3 separate regions of the Homo sapiens genome follow, and all the other regions are linked to region 2. A link means that fine-mapping ties the variant in region 2 to the plasma level of a protein whose gene starts in the linked region. Region 2 holds a variant in brackets. A gene starts in each other region. All regions are shown on their forward strands.

What was found. PIP is the chance, under the fine-mapping model, that this variant and not a neighbour inherited with it causes the effect. Protein levels are from antibody-based Olink assays in UK Biobank. Linkage for the fine-mapping came from a reference panel and not from the study's own genotypes, which makes the PIPs less certain.
Region 1: it holds the start of CRISP3, and the variant in region 2 is fine-mapped to the plasma level of the CRISP3 protein (UK Biobank, PIP above 0.99).
Region 3: it holds the start of LCN2, and the variant in region 2 is fine-mapped to the plasma level of the LCN2 protein (UK Biobank, PIP 0.99).

What each region holds. Positions count from the first base shown.
Region 1 is chr6:49,743,081-49,745,933 of GRCh38, forward strand. It overlaps CRISP3 (cysteine rich secretory protein 3), which reads right to left and starts at 1,308. Exons shown (of 8, transcript NM_006061.4): 1 at 1,251-1,308. The coding sequence starts at 1,287.
Region 2 is chr4:54,541,221-54,544,073 of GRCh38, forward strand. No RefSeq gene overlaps it. Among named protein-coding and RNA genes, the nearest start is that of LINC02260, 64 kb to the right of the region's middle. RefSeq lists a cis regulatory region at 1,267-1,878. The variant A/T (reference allele first, on the strand shown) is at 1,488.
Region 3 is chr9:128,148,459-128,150,958 of GRCh38, forward strand. LCN2 (lipocalin 2) reads left to right here and starts at 995. Exons shown (of 7, transcript NM_005564.5): 1 at 995-1,205; 2 at 1,780-1,916. The coding sequence starts at 1,068. RefSeq lists a silencer at 2,345-2,394.

The DNA.
Region 1 (2,853 bases), not on the chromosome of region 2:
CAATATGCAAAGTTTGCAAAACTGCTAGACTTCATCAAGTAAGAAATTCGTAAAGATATCCAAATAAGAATAGCTGTCTTGCATTTCTTGAGAAGCACTTTTTTTTCAAGGATGAATTCCCTCCCTTTTACTTGAATTCAATAAATAACGTAACTGAAATTCATAGCAATTATCAGATTTACATTACTTGAGAATTCTGACACTCTTCCTCCCAATTCATCCCTGCCTGTTACAAATCAGAAGCCCCAATTTACCTCATAACTTATCAATGTAGGGTAACTCCCAGGCTTGAAACTTGTCATCAATTTAATTTCTTTTGATCCACTTTCAGAGGTCTTAGTCATACAGGCAGACATTCTAGATTTGGTTTTAACTAGCAGAAGAGGCAACACCGGATCTTCTATGGCTATTGCAAATACTCCCAGAGTTTCCTGGATAGCATTTAGCCACAGGGAAGAAAAGCATTTTACTTTAAAATCTTCTGTCTAGTGGTAAATAACCCCTTTCATGTTGTCATTAGGTAGTTCTGTGGTCTCCTACTATCTGACTCTTCAGAATCACTTCTAATATGCTACGGAAGATAAAGCCGTATGTGGAAATTGCTTCCTTAGATGAAATATGCACGATAGATATTATATTTAAATTACCTACATAAACATGACTGAGTAGACTGACTTTTGACTGAAAAACTTCTAAAAGCCTTTTTTTTTTGTTTTTGATCTGAGTGCATTTCATGAGGTAAATTGCATTTTATGTTGATGGTCTTTAATAAAATACTTTTTAATCTTGAGATCAGTGCTATAATTTTGTTTTGACCAATTTAAAACTTTTGCTATGGCATCCCATATAGCTGTATGTTTTAATATTAGTAAAAGTTACTGATGTGAAAGTATGCACACACATATATTCATAGTTTTTCATTTTTCTATTAAAAATAGTTCTAGTACAATTGTTTCCACAAGTCATAGACATGGGAATTAGTTATATTACTTTAGAATGAAAGGTAAAAATTTATTTAAATTTCAAACTGGATAAAAGTGCTTTTGGAATAATAAAGCTGTCTATGTATTAGCTTCTCAGCTTAAAATGAATATATTAAGATAATTACTCTCATTAAAAGTTATCAATAAACTTTGGAAAATTGTAGATAAAATATACGAATATATCACTTTATCATTGATAAGGTATAAATGTGTTGTTCACCTTGAAATAAATAATGTTCACCTTGAAATAAAGGAGTTATCACTTACCAGTGGTTTCCAGAGCAGGATGAAGTATTTGTTTCATCTATTGACAGAAGGAAGGTGCAGAGAGAGAAGGTTAGAGCCGTATATATGAAACACCTATTTCCTGTTTTGGCAAATTCTGGTTGTGCAAGTAACTCTAGATCAACAAGGCCTGAAACAGGATTTGTCATACCAGTAGTCTCAAATTTCATTGCTGGTTTTCTAGTCATGATTTTGAAATTATTTGGTGATTCCTCAAATGGCTTTTAAAAATAAATTGCTATATCAAGTTTTGTAATTGTGCATTTATTCTTTGAAGTTCATATATTACAATTTATCCATGTTTTTGCCAGTCAATAGTTTGAAAATTCTTAGCCCAATTATTAGCATCACAACATTAGAGTTTTCAGAATTATTTCTGTTGGATTGAAATTAAGCTCATAATTTTTATGAACTCTAGAGAACACAATGTTTTTTACAGCTATCTAAAATGTTTATTAATAATCTATTGGACATTACTGTTTTGGATAATAATTTTATCTTTAATGTTTGTAAATACAAGGCCACAGTGACTTTCAGAACTCAATGGCCAAACACACCATAACTCATTGGTATTTCTATATTCAAAGATGTGCTGTATTTACTTGTATTTTCTGGTTGTATAAAATTAAAGATAATATTGATCTCCAAGCTAAATTATCATTATTTGGTTCTGTTCATCTATGGAAGATGTCAATCATTCCAGGCTTGTTTCCATAGCACAATAATGAAGTGGGGTGGACTAACAATTTCAGATTTCCTCTGATTCTAAAATACAATAATCTTAAATATTGAGTTTATATAAATAAAGAAGTATAAATTAATAAATCACAAGTAGCATATACATAGCACGCAGACATTTCTGCATGCTCATATTGGCATATAGATTGCACCTTGTGGTGCATAATTCAATAGTTTCTGTTCATTTTCATTTTTATATTTAGCTTTATTGATCAATGTGACAAAATGTATAATCACAGATCAATGTCTACACAATAGGCACATTTTAAAATTATAGTTAATTTTGAGTTCAAGAATTGGATACTTCTAAATGTCTGTTATAAGAGAGTTGAGAACTCAGAAACTCAGGTCAGATTTTACCATTAAAAAATGGTTAACCATTTGCTGCCATGTCTCCAAGTAACTCCTAGAATCTGTTTACTTTATGAACATGTGAAGTGGAAGCTCTCAATAAACCAAATCAGCTATGTGGAAAAAATCACCATGGAACAACCTTCTACACAATCCTCTTTCTGTGGCAAAATGTATTTTGTGGGGAAGGACCAGACCCAGAAGCATCCACAGCCCATTCTCTTCTCTACTTAGTGGTGTAGAATGTTGTTAAAAGCTTGATATTTCTGTTTTAATGGAAATGGGCTAAATTTCTATACCAATGTGTATTGGGAAATTTTTATATTTTATTATTTTATTTTATATCATATTTTATTTTATTTGAAGCAGGATCTCACTCTATCATCCAAACTGGAGTGCAGTGGTTAGATCAGAACTCATTGTAGCCTTGAATTTCTGGGCTCAAGGGATCTCCTATTTCAGCTTCCCAAGGAGCTGAGACCATGGTGTGCACTAC
Region 2 (2,853 bases):
AAAGAGACATGGACAATATTAACAGGGAAGAGGCCTTTGCTCTTCAAGCACCTTGATGGGTTTGCAACGGCACCTTTGAGAGGAGGCTGTATTTGTCTGCTTTATTTAAAGGGGGAAGTTTGAAGTAGAGGTGGTGGGGGCACTGGAGTAGGAAAGGAGTAAGAATGGCAGGATCCTGCATGGACAAAAGGCTGGAGAAAAATCTCCATGGAGGATGAATTTGTAAGTTATATCTGCTATGAGCAGTGCTGTTAAAATATTTACTCCGTAACACTCCCCACCCCCCAGATCCACTCATTATCTCGAACTGCCTGGGGTAAAAGGAGGAGATCAAGGAAGAATCTGGATCCTTTAAAAATGTCATGGGTCAAAACCGTAGGAGCTAGAGGCAAAGAAAACCATGAGAATATAAATCCATGACTATTCACACAACTACTGGGGAAGTCTTTGGATATTTTTCAGGCCACGGAATTAAGGATTCAGGGGAATTTCAGGCAGCTCCCAAGGAGTAGGGAGGCCCCAGATGCTATCTACATTGGAGCAATAATATCCGTGAAATTGTTGGTCATATTTTCAACTCAGGGTCCTGGTCCTGTTCAAATGCTTACAGCAGCAAGGGAGATAAAGGAGTAAAGCAGGCTGGATGTGAGACAGCAGGGAGTGGTAGGCGCTGCAGCAAGCTGTAGGGTGCAAGTCCTATCGGAAGGAGACAATTGCCTCCCAGCTCCAGCGGAGTGTTGCCTTGCAAGAATGCAAGCCCAGTGTTGCCAGATAGTCCACATTTTAAGAGAAGCCAGAAATGCAAATGTTTCAGAAAAACCTCGTTTTTGAAAAATGTTAACTAATTCAGAAAATATTTTCAAACTTCAAGGGTCAAACAAAAGATGTCTCGTGATGTATGTGGTTTCTAATTTAGAAGACAGAACAAATACAGGGATAAGATTCATTTTCAAAACAAGTAAAGAAATGAATGGCATTTAAGTGAGATATGATAGGAAAAGCTCTGATTCATGCATCTTAAATCCAGGGCTTTCGGCTCTGCTTGACTACTATTTGTCTGTATGTTTACAATGAAATAATTTATAATGTCGTGGCCTTCATCTCTTTATCCATAAAATGAAGGCATTAAATCTGACACTTTTTTTAGACTTGGAGATGTGATGATTGAGGGGGCAGAAAGAAAGTGTAAGCAGTGGAAAAATGAGCCCTGGGTGTGTTTCAAAATGTGTTGAATTCATTGACATTTATTATGTGTCTGCAAGGTACATTGCCTTGATCATGGAATTCTTGCTTACTGTGAAAAAGTAAGCATAAACTCAAAAAGCACCTTAATTATTTTGCCTACCTGAGAACAATGCTTTCAAAGAAGTGGGAGAAGAGCCTCCCCCAACTGGAAGCTGTGTTACTGACACTATCAGCAGGTGAGTTACAGAGTCTGTCAGCAACGATAAGAGCACTGGCGTATTTCCTATTCAGACTGACGCTGC[A/T]CTGAGACAGGAACCTAACTGATGTTTGTTCAATAATACCAAGATATGTCACAGAATCTGTGGGGGTGTCCGGTATCTTTTGTCAGCTTAGACTCAAACCCTGGAGAAAATATGTTGCAGACTGTTGCAGATGTTCTGAGATTAAATGATGTTTTCCTGAAAATGCATGAGGCATGGTCTACCGGTTTGCCTATTGGCAAACCGCCTCTTGCTGCCATCAAGACCCCACCCCCTCCCCCAGGCCATTCTGAAAAAGCAGAGCTGCCTCTAGGCCTTTCAGCTTTACCCTGAACCTCAAGACACTCCCACATTCTTCAGGGATTTGGGGATGGGTGGGTGGGTCTTATGATCCCAAAAGGATGGGATAGGGGAGAAGTGGGGTGGGTGGGAGGATGAGAGGTAGATGCAAAAAGATGGGTGGGGAAGAGAGGACCTAAACACAGTGCTGAGATCGAGTAATTTTAGGAGGCAGTACTGTTTGTGGAACATTTCATTCTTTATAGCTACTGTCACATTCTAGTCATTAGACTGCATTTACTTGTGGGTTGTAGAAATTACTTCCCATGGGAAACTAAAGCAATTCCTTCTTCAAAGGATGCTTTGTTTTCTAAGAGAAGAAAGTAAAGCCTATGACAGTGCAGCCAACTATGTAACCTACATTCCCTGCTAAGCCACTCTTGGTTGAAGTTCACTGTTTAGCATGACCACATAAAGAAGTAACCAAGAAATGATGATGATGACGATGATAATGATAATAATAGCTAGCATGTACTGAGCATCTTCTATATGCCAAGCCCTGAACTGAACCTTTATTTATGTGTTTTAATCCCTATAGAAACCCTGGCTATTATCATTAGCCCCATTTTACAGATGAGAAAACTGAGGCTTAAAGAAGCTATATGTGCTCACGATAACACAGCTAGGACTTAAACCTGATCTGCTCTGCTCTGAAGTCCATTCTTACAGGCACTGACCTCTGAATGTACCACATTTGGCTGAGAAGTCCTTTGTCATTTCTGACATAGAATCTCTCCTAGCAAAAACTTCAGGAATAAGGAGTGAATGAAACAGGAGTGCACAAAACAGAGAGTGGTATATCTGAAACTGGAGAAGTCCATGTGAATTTCAGTTTTAATCAATTACATCCATTAGGTGACAGCTGCTTCCCTTCTGCCCTCCAGGTGCCTGCACCTAGAGCTTAAAACATCTGCAAATTAAAGTGAGACTGTGCTGCTGTCCGAGGAAATGAGAGCAGCAGCTTCTGCTCTCTGCGGCCTCTGCCAGCCCAAATCCCATTCTTGCCTTGTTAGCATTTATATAAGACCTCTGGCTGCAGCACCAATCTACTGTACCTCCCTGCCCTGCG
Region 3 (2,500 bases), not on the chromosome of region 2:
TGCACAGGGCCTACGATCCATCGCTGCCTCCCGAGGATGCCAGCCAGGCCCCCGTTGAGATAACTGCTTCCCTGCTGGACAAGGCTGGGACCAGCCATCTCGGTGACAGTTCCAGAACCCCTGGCCTGGGCTGCTGGGTTCAATGGAAAAAGGCTGTGACTAGAGTCAGGGGGATGGTCTCAGTGACCTCAAGGATAAGGCCAGATCCTTGCACTGTCAGTGACCCAAAGCAACAGGTGTCCAGAGCAGCAGTGTGGCGCCTTCACGCCCCCACACATCAGCCCAACTCACCCAGGACAGGGACTGTAGCCTCAGCACTCAACCCATGTGCCCTGTGTGGGGTCTCTTCCCACTGCACTCACAGGAGAGGAAGGGTCCCTCAGGGGTCCACTGGGGTCCCCTCCTGCAAATGGGGCAAGGAGAGGGGCAAGGGGCTGTCTCAAGGCCCCTGGAGCACATGCAGGTCCTGGACTGGGGCTCCTGGGAGGGCCATGATTCTGGGCTCCATGAGTTCAGAGCAGACGCCTTGTTTTTCCTTGTCCACTGTCAGCCACCCCACCCTTCCCTGACCCTTAAAAGAACCAGGAAACAGCACATGATCTGTTGGAAGGAGGCATTCATTCTTTCCTTTCTGTGGGTGTGGGGAGGGGACCACAGGGCACATACCCCACCCTGGGATCCAGCTGAGCAGGGGGGTCAGAGATGACAGCTCTTCCGGCTCACAGGCCACCGGCCCACATACAGGGCAATCAGAAGAAAGAAACAGCACAAGGAAGGCACAGAGGGAGTCGTTGTCCCTGCCAGAGGTGCAGCACTCCGGGAATGTCCCTCACTCTCCCCGTCCCTCTGTCTTGCCCAATCCTGACCAGGTGCAGAAATCTTGCCAAGTGTTTCCGCAGGAGTTGCTGGCAATTGCCTCACATTCCTGGCCTTGGCAAAGAATGAATCAACCCACCCTAGATCCCATAAATAGGGCCACCCAGGTGAGCCTCTCACTCGCCACCTCCTCTTCCACCCCTGCCAGGCCCAGCAGCCACCACAGCGCCTGCTTCCTCGGCCCTGAAATCATGCCCCTAGGTCTCCTGTGGCTGGGCCTAGCCCTGTTGGGGGCTCTGCATGCCCAGGCCCAGGACTCCACCTCAGACCTGATCCCAGCCCCACCTCTGAGCAAGGTCCCTCTGCAGCAGAACTTCCAGGACAACCAAGTAAGGGGCCAAGAGGGGCACCTGCAGGCAGGGCCTGGGGAAGAGTGGGAGCAGAGGGGAGGAGAGGTGAAGAGACTCAGGAAGAGCGTTGGGCAGGACTCTAGGAGTCCAGGGTCCAGGTTTCAGCTCACTCTGTGCCACCAGGGTCCCCTGGTGGAAACCATGCCCCTTCCCCCCATCCCCACCCCCTCTCAGCCTGAACAGACTCCCCCAGGTCCACATCCCCTCTCCCATAACCCCCATTGTCCAAAGAAGGTGGGAGCACTTTTAGTCCCCCTGCACAGATGAGGAAACTGAGGCTCAGGAAGGCCCACCAGCCACATGCCTCCTCCAGTGAGGAGGTCACCCTCCTCCCTGCCAGACTCAGAACCGCCTCTTCCCCCAGGACTCCCTTCTGGACTGATGGCCTCCTGCTCCTGCCCCTTCACCAGTGCAGGCCCAGCCTGGGCCCTGCTGCCCAGCTAGAGGGGCTCATGGTTCCAAGCTGGGCGGCCCAGAGGTGCCACAGGGACAGAGCTGGAGGGGTGGCTCCTAGGGCCATTCCTGGGTTGTGCCTCTTATCAGTCCCTTGCAGTTCCAGGGGAAGTGGTATGTGGTAGGCCTGGCAGGGAATGCAATTCTCAGAGAAGACAAAGACCCGCAAAAGATGTATGCCACCATCTATGAGCTGAAAGAAGACAAGAGCTACAATGTCACCTCCGTCCTGTTTAGGTGAGGGCCGACATCTCCTGGGGGTGTGAGAGTCAGACTGACGTCACAGGCAAGGGATGGCCAAAGCTGAGGGATCCTGTCGTTCACCTCGCTGTTCTGCCCGGAATTCATCTGTGTTCATCCTTCCTCTGTTCCTTAGAGCAACGTTTATAGCACATTTCCATGCAGACACACAGACAGTGGTGGGGATGGACATGCACAGTCGTTAGAAAACAAGACGGAGAGAGGAGGGGTGCCTGGGAGCGGGAGGAGGGGACACTGGATCCAGCCTGGAACCCCACCCAGTGCCTTCATGGAAGGCTTCCAGGGAGGTGGCCTTAAAAGAGCCAACCTGCTTCAAAAGGAAATGTGGGGTGTTCCCGGCAGGGGCTGGAGTCAGAGAGAGCCCCCCCTTCAGGAAGGAGCAAGCCATCGCAGGGTCACCCTGAGCAGAGCTGCTGAGCAGCCTGGAGGGGCAGGTGGCCACGCTAGCACCTAGCACGGTCCTCAGGCCCCGCCCCAGCGGATCTGCTGCGGAGTGGCTTAGAGCAGGGCTCTTGGGCCGCAGGGTGGGGAGACTTGGTGGGGTGCAGCCTAGGGGGTCG